Homo sapiens: one gene and its partners. The protein of the gene in region 1 interacts with the protein of each later gene in a biochemical or structural test. Each region holds a gene or a part of one and is shown in the gene's direction. Other genes may lie near its edges.

What was found.
Region 2: the proteins of DFFA (region 1) and TRPV4 interact in a test that uses a peptide from one of them, tested with the Homo sapiens proteins (one large-scale study listed by BioGRID).
Region 3: of the proteins of DFFA (region 1) and CASP3, one has a biochemical effect on the other in vitro, tested with the Homo sapiens proteins (one study listed by BioGRID).

What each region holds. Positions count from the first base shown.
Region 1 is NC_000001.11:10,466,030-10,469,683, reverse strand, and holds part of DFFA (DNA fragmentation factor subunit alpha), read left to right. Parts: intron 1-345; coding exon 346-507; intron 508-2,351; coding exon 2,352-2,494; intron 2,495-3,654. UniProt on the Homo sapiens protein: Inhibitor of the caspase-activated DNase (DFF40).
Region 2 is NC_000012.12:109,785,340-109,788,398, reverse strand, and holds part of TRPV4 (transient receptor potential cation channel subfamily V member 4), read left to right. Parts: intron 1-1,502; coding exon of another isoform or gene 1,503-1,523; exon of another isoform or gene 1,524-1,561; coding exon 1,562-1,689; intron 1,690-3,059. UniProt on the Homo sapiens protein: Non-selective calcium permeant cation channel involved in osmotic sensitivity and mechanosensitivity. Activation by exposure to hypotonicity within the physiological range exhibits an outward rectification.
Region 3 is NC_000004.12:184,639,336-184,642,989, reverse strand, and holds part of CASP3 (caspase-3 isoform a preproprotein), read left to right. Parts: intron 1-3,654. UniProt on the Homo sapiens protein: Thiol protease that acts as a major effector caspase involved in the execution phase of apoptosis. Following cleavage and activation by initiator caspases (CASP8, CASP9 and/or CASP10), mediates execution of apoptosis by catalyzing cleavage of many proteins.

The sequences.
Region 1 (3,654 bases):
CCGGACATGGTGGTGCACGCCTATAATCCCAACTACTCGGGAGGCTGAGGCAGGAAAATCACTTGAACCTGGGAGGCAGAGGTTTCAGTGAGCCGAGATCGCGCCAGTGCACTGCAGCCTGGGTAACAGAGTGAGACCCTGCTACAAAAAAAAAGAAAAGAACACTTAGAACAGAATCAGGCACGTGATGAGTGTTCTGGTAGTGCTAGAAGTGATGATTGTGATTCTAGTTATTACCTACCAGGAGTTCTGCTCAGCTCTGGAGCCATACATACTTGAGATGCAGGGATAGATGTAATTTCCTTACGGTTATTTGTCATTTGCCAAATATTTTATTCTTTTCAGCCTGTGACATTCTGGCCATTGATAAGTCCCTGACACCAGTCACCCTGGTCCTGGCAGAGGATGGCACCATAGTGGATGATGACGATTACTTTCTGTGTCTACCTTCCAATACTAAGTTTGTGGCATTGGCTAGTAATGAGAAATGGGCATACAACAATTCAGGTAAGAAACTCTAGCCATGTATAAAACGGCCTATGCAGTACAGCATCCATCATGATTACTTTCACTGCACAGACAATTGCCATTTGTCTGGCTTTTTAAGCATTTGTTCAACAGATATTTACTGAGCACTTTCTATGTGCCAGACATGGTGCTGAGTCCTGGGGATAAAGATGAATGAGGCCAGGCACGGTGGGCAGATCACCTGAGCTCAGGAGTTTGAGACCAGCCTGGCCAACATGGCGAAAGTCCATCTCTACTGAAAATACAAAAACTAGCTGAGCATGGTGGCAGGCACCTGTAATCCCAGATACTTGGGAGGCTGAGGCGGGAGAATTGCTTGAACCTGGGAGGTGGAGGTTGCAGTGAGCTGAGATTGTGCCACTGCACTCCAGCCTGGGCGACAGAACGAGACTCTGTCTCAAAAAAAAAAAAAAATAGATGAATGAGACATGGGCCCAGTTCTCAACTAACTCATGGACAGACAGCAACTGAAATGCAGCCTGGCAGGGAGCTCAGTGCTGCAGGCTGCAGTCCAGCTGTTGAGGTCTGGATCCTGGCTCTACCATTTACTAACCAGGTGACCTTGTGCAAATTACATAACTTCTCAGTGCCTTGTTGACATAATAATTATAGAACCTGTCCCCTAAGATTGTTGTAAAGATAATATAGTACATATCAAACCAGGGTTTCTCAATGACACTGCTGACATTTGGGGCTGGAGTTGTGAAGAGGATGCTTTGTGTATGATAGGACGTTTAGTAGCATCCTAGATGTTACGAACCTCCCCCCACAACTGTGATAACCAAGAATAAATGACTCCAGATATTGTCAGATGTCTCCTGGGGGGCAAAATTGCTCCCACTTGAGAACCACTGATATGAAGTGTTTAGATCTTACCTGGCACATAGTTAAGGACTCAATAATTGTTACCTGTCCCTGCCATCATCATCATCACAGGAGATAGAAAGGGGACTAACATTGGTGACCAAGGATCAAGAAGTGTCTTGAGAGGGGATTAGTTTTAGGGAGGGACTTAAAAAAAAAAAAAGTGTCCTGAAGTGTGCCACAAAATTGAGGAAGTCATCCTACAGCAGTGGCCCTACCAGCCACCTTTGTGCTCAGGCCTAAGGGACAGCAATCGATGGCTACAGCTCTGCCAGTTAAAGAAGGGACCAATCCCCAAGCACAGAGAAATGCTGGCACAAATGACCGTTTTCGTATAAAAAACAGGACACACCTGGACACACAGAAACCAGAAAGGGAAGTGTGATTGGATTCCTTGTAGGTGTGACCACACATTGGGTTTAAATGGCTTTTTCTATGGAAGAATACAGAGCCGTTGCACACAGAGATAAAGATGAAAGAGGGTCAGGCACGGTGGCTTATGCCTGTAATCCCAGCACTTTGGGAGACCGAGGTGGGCAGATCACTTGAAGTCAGGAGTTTGAGACCAGCCTGGCCAACATGGTGAAAGCCCGTCTCTACTAAAAATACCAAAATTAGCTGGTCATGGTGGTGGGCACCTGTAATCCCAGCTACTTGCAAGGCTGAGGCAGGAGAATCGCTTGAACTCGGGCAGTGGAGGTTGCAGTGAGCCAAGATCGTGCCACTGCACTCCAGCCTGGGCAACAGAGTGAGACTCTGTCTCAAAAAAAAAAAAAATGAAAGAAGAGGGAAAATCAAGGTCCTGGATGGATATTGACCCTCCTGTGAATCCTTGAGATAAGATGCTTCTTTCCCATTGAAATTAATCTAGATCCTCAAGAGGTCTGTGTGTGCTGGGGGAGGAGGTGAAAACAGCACTTCAGGTTGTTCTGTGACTGGCATTTTCTCCCATGTGTCAGATGGAGGTACAGCTTGGATTTCCCAAGAGTCCTTTGATGTAGATGAAACAGACAGCGGGGCAGGGTTGAAGTGGAAGAATGTGGCCAGGCAGCTGAAAGAAGATCTGTCCAGCATCATCCTCCTATCAGAGGAGGACCTCCAGGTAAAGCCTCCTCCACAACCTGCAACAATGTTCATCCAGCCTCTGCCCCCCGCCCCAGCACCTTCTTAGCTTCCATACTTGCCATAGCAATTTCTTTGTTTTAATCTTAATTTTTAAATAATTCTTAAATTACAACTAAGATTTTTCATCTTCTCATTCTCACCTAGAGTAATTTTTCAACCCTCGTCACGAAGCAGAATTACCTGTGGATTTTTTTTTTTTTTTTTTTTTTTTTTTGAGACACAGTCTTACTCTGTCGCCCAGGCTGGAGTGCAGTGGTGCAATCTCAGCTCACTGCAGTCTCCACCTCCCGGGTTCAAGCAATTCTCCTGTCTCAGCGTCCCAGGTAGCTGGAATTACAGGTGCACACCAACACGCCTGGCTAATTTTGGTATTTTTAGTAGAGACAGCGTTTCATCATGTTGGCCAGGCTGCTCCTGAGTTCAAGTGATCCACCTGCCTCAGCCTCCCAAAGTGCTGAGATTATAGGCGTGAGCCACCGTGCCCGGCCAGATTTTTTTTTTAATACAAATGCCTGGGATCCACCCTAAACCTAGTTAGGTGGACGCTGGGGTCAGGGATGCCCTGCTAGAGAATGTAGCGTTGGAGTAGATGGCTTCACATCCCAGCGCTGTCACCACGACTTTGAGCCAGTAGCTTAGCTTCTCTCCTTGTGTTTTCTCTCTAGTAAGATTGGGATAGGCCAGGTGCAGTGGCTCACGCCTGTAATCTCAGCACTTTGGGAGGCCGAGGCGGGCAGATCACGAGGTCAGGAGATCGAGACCATCCTGGCTAACATGGTAAAACCCCATCTCTACTAAAAATACAAAAAATTAGCCGGGCCTGGTGGTGTGCACCTGTACCTGTAGTCCCAGCTACTCGGGATGCTGAGGCAGAAGAATCGCCTGAACCCAGGAGGTGGAGCTTGCAGTGAGCCGAGATCGCACCACTGCACTCCAGCCTGGGTGACAGAGAGAGACTCCATCTCAAAAAGAAAAAAAAGATTGGGATAAAAACAGTATGTTTTCATTCAAAGAAAATTTCTCTTTGAGACAGGGTCTTGCTTTGTCACCCAGTGCAGTGGCATGATCATAGCTCACTGCATCCTCGACTTCCTGGGCTCAAGCCATCCTCCCACCTCAACCTCTCAGGTAGCTGAG
Region 2 (3,059 bases), on another chromosome or scaffold:
TGAGGCCCCAGGGCCCCCAGCCCCACTCTACCAGCCACCCTCGTCCTTCCGAGGAGACCCACCCGACTGGCTTCCTCGGCCTTCCACTCTGAGCAAGCAGTGTCTTCTCATTCTCCCTCCACTTCTCTGTCGGTAAAATGGGCATCAGAGGCTGCTGCTGACTTCCCAGAGCTGCCTAGTGAATTTTGAGGTGGCTTCTTGCCTGGCTGCCAGCAGTGGGCTCAGATTCTCCTTGTGGTCCAGCTCACAGGACACAGTCGGCTCCACCTAGCATGACTGAGTGACTTCTGCCGGCTCAGAAAGTGCTCCGTGGGCATCAGCGTTTCAGCAGGGGTCCCACGCTGAGCCCAGGGGCAGCTTTTGTGCTCTAGCACTCCAGCACAGGGATGTCAGCATTCTCATGGGGGTCTTTTTCTAGCAACTGTGAGCATGCTTCCTAGAGGAGAAACCAATGGGGACAGGGGCCGCCTTGGCCCGGGGAGCTGCAGAAAGTTTTTACTTACCAAAAGCTTTCTATGCAATCCTGGAAAGAACAGGCCCTGGGATCACAGCCCTCCCAGGCCAGGTGCAGCCTACAAACCTGGTGTCCTAATAAACAGTGCTGCCCCACGGCCCAGGAATACAGCACCCGTGTTTACCTTGACTGTGCATTTCAGGAAAATGGTGCAGTGAGAAAAAAGGGCCCAAGGTTGTCCTCCCAGGACTGGGTCTGAGGGAAACAGCTCTGGCCTGCTCTTAACCTTTATCTATATTGCTTACTTCATTGGGCCTCAGTTTCCCCACTGGGCATTACTCACAGGATGCAAACTGGGCATCCTGTGGGCTGGAGTGCAATGGTGTGATCTTGGCTCACTGCAACCTCTGCCTCCCAGGCTCAAGTGATTCTCTGTCCTCAGCCTCCCGAGTAGCTGGGGCTAAGGTGTGCACCACCTCACCCGGCTAATTTTTGTATTTTTTGTAAAGATGGGGTTTCACCATGTTGCCCAGGCTGGTCTTGAACTTCTGAGTTCAAGCTATCCACCTGCCTTGGCCTCCTAAAGTGCTGAGATTGCAGGTGTGAGCCACTGCACCCAGCATCAGACCATTATATTAAAAACAACAACAACAACAAAAAACTGCAAAATTTAAAAATTAAGAGATTCCCTATGAAAACCCAGATTTCTGGCTTTTCTTGAAAAGTTGGAAGCTCCAGGCAGTGCAGGGTCCGGATTCCTGCCTGGCAGCCCTCAGGTGGGGTGAGTGGCAGCTGCCCCCTTACACGTGGGCATTTGCTCCCTGTTCTCCCCAGTCTCTACCCCTCCCTCACTGAGAGGCAACTGCTGTGTAAGTGTGATAGGGCTTGGGCGGCAGCCTTTCTGCACCTGATCCTGTTTCACCCATTTGTTTTCCTGCCTGCCACCTGTGGGTATTTGAGTTTATAAACCCTGTGTCTAGTGGGGAGTAGGAGTCTAAATGCCTAGTTCTGGGCCCACCCTGGCCCGTTGTCTCATTTCTGCCACCAGAGCGGCAGGCGCAGGCTGTGAGGCTCACCGATGTCCCTCCTGACCCTCCCTCCCCGCAGTGGGCCACCACCATCCTGGACATTGAGCGCTCCTTCCCCGTATTCCTGAGGAAGGCCTTCCGCTCTGGGGAGATGGTCACCGTGGGCAAGAGCTCGGACGGCACTCCTGACCGCAGGTGGTGCTTCAGGTGAGGCTGGGGCAGTGGGGCCAGGATGGCAGGGCGGAACTGTCCCCACTGGCTCGGGGCCCCTGCTGCTCCAGCGTCGTCTACCCATTGCAATTTCTGGAGCCACTGAGGCCCCAAGAGGCCCGAGCAGAGTTCATTTCCACCAGGCGATCTCAGGCAAGTCAGCCCACCTCTCTCAGCCTCAGTTTCTTCATCTGTGGAATGAGACAATGATCTCACGGGCTCCTAGGCTGGCGGTGCGGATTAGACAGGTCAGCACGTGAGAAGTGCTCAGCCAGTGCCCGACGCGCATCGGGACGCCACAGGCTCCCCTGTTCTTGCTCAGGGGGAAGCAGAGACTTGGATGGTGGGTTCATTTTAGAGCATCACCCTGTATCTACCAAACAGTGGGGTGAGCTCTAGTGCCCTCGGTGAAATGGGAAGCTGAGGAATGTGCAGTTTCCAGGGCTGGAGACCTCACCCAGCCCATCTGCAGAATGACTCCGTGTTCCAGAGGCACAGGGAGTGCCAGCTTCTTAGGGGAACCCCTTCATGAATCTTTTCTTTCCAGTTGATTCATTCATTGTAAAGTGGTTGTCAGCATGGAGCATAAGCAGAATGTTTGGAGTCAGACAAAGTCAGTTTCTTCATCTGTGAAATGGGAACAATAATAGAACCCACCTCCTAGGCCATCCGATCAGTTCAATTCCATTTTTTGTTTGTTTTTAGAGGCAGGGTTGCTCAGGCTGGAGTGCAGTGGTGTGATCATAGCTGACTGCAGCCTCCAACTCCTGGTCTCAAGCGATCCTCCCACCTCAGCCTCCTCATGCCACCATGTCCGACCAATTTTTAATTTTTTTGTAGAGATGGGGTTCTTGCTATGTTGCCCAGGCTGGTCTCAAACTCCTGGTCTCAAGCGATCTTCCCACCTCAGCCTCCCAAAATGCTGGGATTACAGGCGTGAGCCACCACACCCAGCCTCTGTTCAGTTTGAATCCAAAGCTCAAATCTTGGCTGGGTGTGGTGGCTCGTGCTTGTAATCCCAGCACTTTGGGAGGCCAAGGTGGGTGGATCACCTGAGGTCAGGAGTTTGAGACCACCCTGGGCAACATGGTGAAACCCTGTCTCCACTAAAAATACAAAAATTAGTCGGGAGTGGTGGCATGCACCTGTAATCCCAGCTACTCGGGAGGCTGAGGCAGGAGAATCGCTTGAACCTGGTAGGTGGAGGTTGCAGTGAGCCGAGATTGCACTACTGCACTCCAGTCTGGCGGACAGAGCAAGACTCTGCCTTAAAACAAACAAACAAAAATGAATAGATAGGATAAAAAATTAAAGATAATATGTAAAAAAAAAAGATAATATATAAAAAAATGAGTGGATAAACAAAA
Region 3 (3,654 bases), on another chromosome or scaffold:
AAAGCTGGTCACTATTTAAAGTTTCCATTACCAGTCACAAGGAGAGAATAATTTTATCCCACAATTTTATTGCTGGCAAAAGACACAAGTTTATTAAAAGTCAGTATTTCAGTGTAAGAGTTACTAGACTGTTTGCAGAAGTGTTCAAAAGAGATCTTTAGGTCCTTGGTTGTCTGTGGAAGCTGATCAGCATTTAGGGGTTCCTGAGCACAGACTGTGAACCCTGCATTTGGCACATGCATTCAGAGAGCCAATTTGAGGCAGACTGGGGGCTAGAAAGGATACTGCCAGGAGCTCCAGGTTCAGCTTCCGAAGTTATTAAGTCTTATTTCCCAGTTTTTAAATTAGACTTCATTTTTTAGAGCAGTTTTAGGTTCAAACCAAAATTGAGAAGAACGTACAGAGACATCCTGTATCCCACCTGCCCCCCAACACGTGCGTAGTCTCCCCCATTATCAACATCCTGCACCAGAGTAGTACATTCTTACAAAGGAACCTACACTGACACGTCATCATCACCCAAACGCCATCGTTCACAATCAAGTTCACTCTTGGTGCTGTTTATCCTATGGTTTTGGACAAATTTACAAGGACTTGTATCCACCATTATATTGTCACACTGAGTAGTTTCACTGCCTTAAAAAGTCTCCGTGCGGGCCGGGCACGGTGGCTCACGCCTGTAATCCCAGCACTTTGGGAGGCCAAGGCGGGCAGATCACGAGGTTAGGAGTTCGAGACCAGCCTGGCCAACATGGTGAAACCCCGTCTCTACTAAAAATACAAAAATTAGCCTGGCATGGTGGCATGCGCCTGTAATCCCAGCTACTCAGGAGGCTGAGGCAGGAGAATCGCTTGAAACCTAAAGGCGGAGGTTGCAGTGAGCCGAGACCACGCCACTGCACTCCAGCCTGAGCAAGGAGCGAAATTCCATCTCAAAACAAAAAAAAAAAAAAAAAAAAATTCTCTGTGCTGTCTCCCTCCCTCCTAGCCACTGGCAACCACTGATCTTTTTACTGTCTCCATAGTTTTGCCTTTTCCAGATTGTCAGATAGTTGGAATCATGCGGTATATATGGCCTTTTCAAACTGGCTTCTTTCACTTAGTAATAATGCATTTAAAGTGTTCATGGCTTGCTAGCTCATTTCTTTTTAGTGCTCAGTAATATTCTGTTCTCTGGATATACCACGGTTTATTTATTCATTCACCGACTGAAGGACATCTTAGTTGCTTCTAGTTTTGACAGTTATGAATAAAACTGCTATAAACATCTGTGTGCAGGCTTTTGTGTGAACATAAGTTTTCAACTCCTTTGGGTAAATACCAAAGAGTGCGTATTTACCATATGGCTGGATCATATGGTAAGAGTATGTTTAGTTTTGTAGGAAACTGCCAAACTGTCTTTCGAGTTGGCTGTACCATTTTGCATTTCCACGAGCAGTGATTGAGAATCCCTGTTGCTCCACATCCTCACCAGCATTTGGTGTTGATGGTGTTCTGGTTTTGGCCATTCTGCTAGGTATGTAATGATACCTCATTGTTGCTTTAATTAGCATTTCCCATTATTTGCAGTCTGTGTATCTTTGATGAGGCCCACTGGATTTTCACTTTAGATTTTCTATAGATTGGCCATAAAGTCTTGAAACAAAGATATTTTCTCATGGATTATAATGCAATATCAGTAAACTATTATGTGTTCACCTACGTTTCCAGACTTGTTAGCTACCCTGTACTGTTCTCTCAGTTAATCAAGTTAACCACAATTTGTTTCTCAACCACAGGTGGCTAATGATTTTGTATGTGGTCTGTCCGCTTTGAATTGATGTGCATGGGGCAAGTTGGTCTCTATGATATTCATGGTTCAAGGAAGTTCGAGATTTCCTGGTACCTAATACATGTTTATTGTACATATGAAAGAAAAAAGGGCAGATAGAGGGGAACATGGTACTGAGCATGATAGAGGCAAGGAAGGGTGGCTACTTTGATAGGAGAATACCCCTATTTTTGTCACTCTTGAAACAGGGCCAAGAGTTGAAATTGGCTAGAACAATCCTGACCTTTGTTGATATTATTTTATAGAATAATATTTGTTACTGTTTTCTCACTTTTAAAAAATGCAGATGTTATAGAAAAATTAGAAGATATAGAGGAATGTTAAGGAGTAAATAAGGTGTCAGTAATGCCATCACCCAGACAGCCACTGTTAATAAATATGTTAATATGTGAAGACATACTAATATGTAATATGTACTGAGTGACTAATGGCAGGTCACTTAGTAGCTGTCTCGATTATCAGATCAACTGTCATGGTATGGCAGTGTTTATGTTCAGGTACCCGTATTAGTTATTGTTGTTAATCCCTTTCTGCGCCCAAGTTATAAACTAAACTTTTTCATAGGTATGTACGTATAGGAAAAAATATGCTGCATATAGGCTCAGTACTGTATTTGGTTTCAAGCATCTACTGGGGGACTTGGGAGGTACCCCCTGCCCCTGCCCCACAGGTATACTACTGTATAATTATTCTTCTATCTAAAGTAAGATCTAATGGAAGATAGGAACTTTGTCTTGTCTTCCACTCTGTCCTATTTCCCAGGATGATACCTGGCACAAAGTATTTGTTTACTGACAAACTAAAAGATGATTTATCCCAATTATACTCACATCTTCCCTTGATTTTCCAGAAAGCCTACAGGAAGTAAGATGGTAGAAAAGCAAAGTCTTCGTAGAAATGCAGAGCATAGACTGGCTCTTGGAGAAGGTCAAACATCACCCTCTCCTGTGGTTAAATTGAGATGGTGGCACTGGCTGTCTTCTATATTATTGCTGCACCTTTCCTCACCAGGGGTGCACACAAAACTGGGAGAGAGGGGAGGAAGGAGCTTAGCTTTGTCTTAATAGAAGGGAAGAAATGATGTTTTCCAAGAGACCTTGAAATTGGGGACCTTGGTAAAGGTTTCAGTTTGGGAAGATAAAAAAGTCCTGGGATGGATTCCAACAGTGTAACTGTACTCAATGCCACTGAGCTGTACGCTTAAGAGTGGTAAATTTTATGTCTATTTCACCACAGTTTTAAAGATTAAAATTTTTAAAAGTGGGGGAAGTTACCTAGGACTTTCTAGAAGGACTTTTGAGGGTGAGCAAGTTCTGTTATAGGCTTGTGTATTATTTTGGTATTTCTGATTTTATCATAGGAGTGAGGTTAAAGTTGTATTTTGACTGGAATTTTTGACATTGTCAGGGTTTCTAGAGTGTGGAGAAGGTCACTCAGTATTTTTTGTTTTTGTTTTTTGTTTTGCCTTTGTTCTTGTTTTCCTCTATTTAGGGAGGTGGATTGCCATGGGAAGTACCTTTGCTTCGAAAAGCCAGAAAATGCCTGGTAGAACTCCAGAAAAGTAGTAAGGAGCTGGCTTCTTCAGAGGCAGCATAGCAGAGTGGGAAGAGGGCCCTGTCACTTAGATTGTGACTGTCGACAAAGTCACTTAACCACCAGAAGTTGGGTTTTCTGACGTTTAGAATTTTGAAAAGATTAAAACTGAGTGCCTTGCAAAGTACCTGGTATATATTAAGTGCTCAATAAGTGATAGTTGCTTTGATTCTAAGAACTGGTTCACCTTGTGAGATATAATTGTGTAATGGAAGAATGAAAGCAGAAAC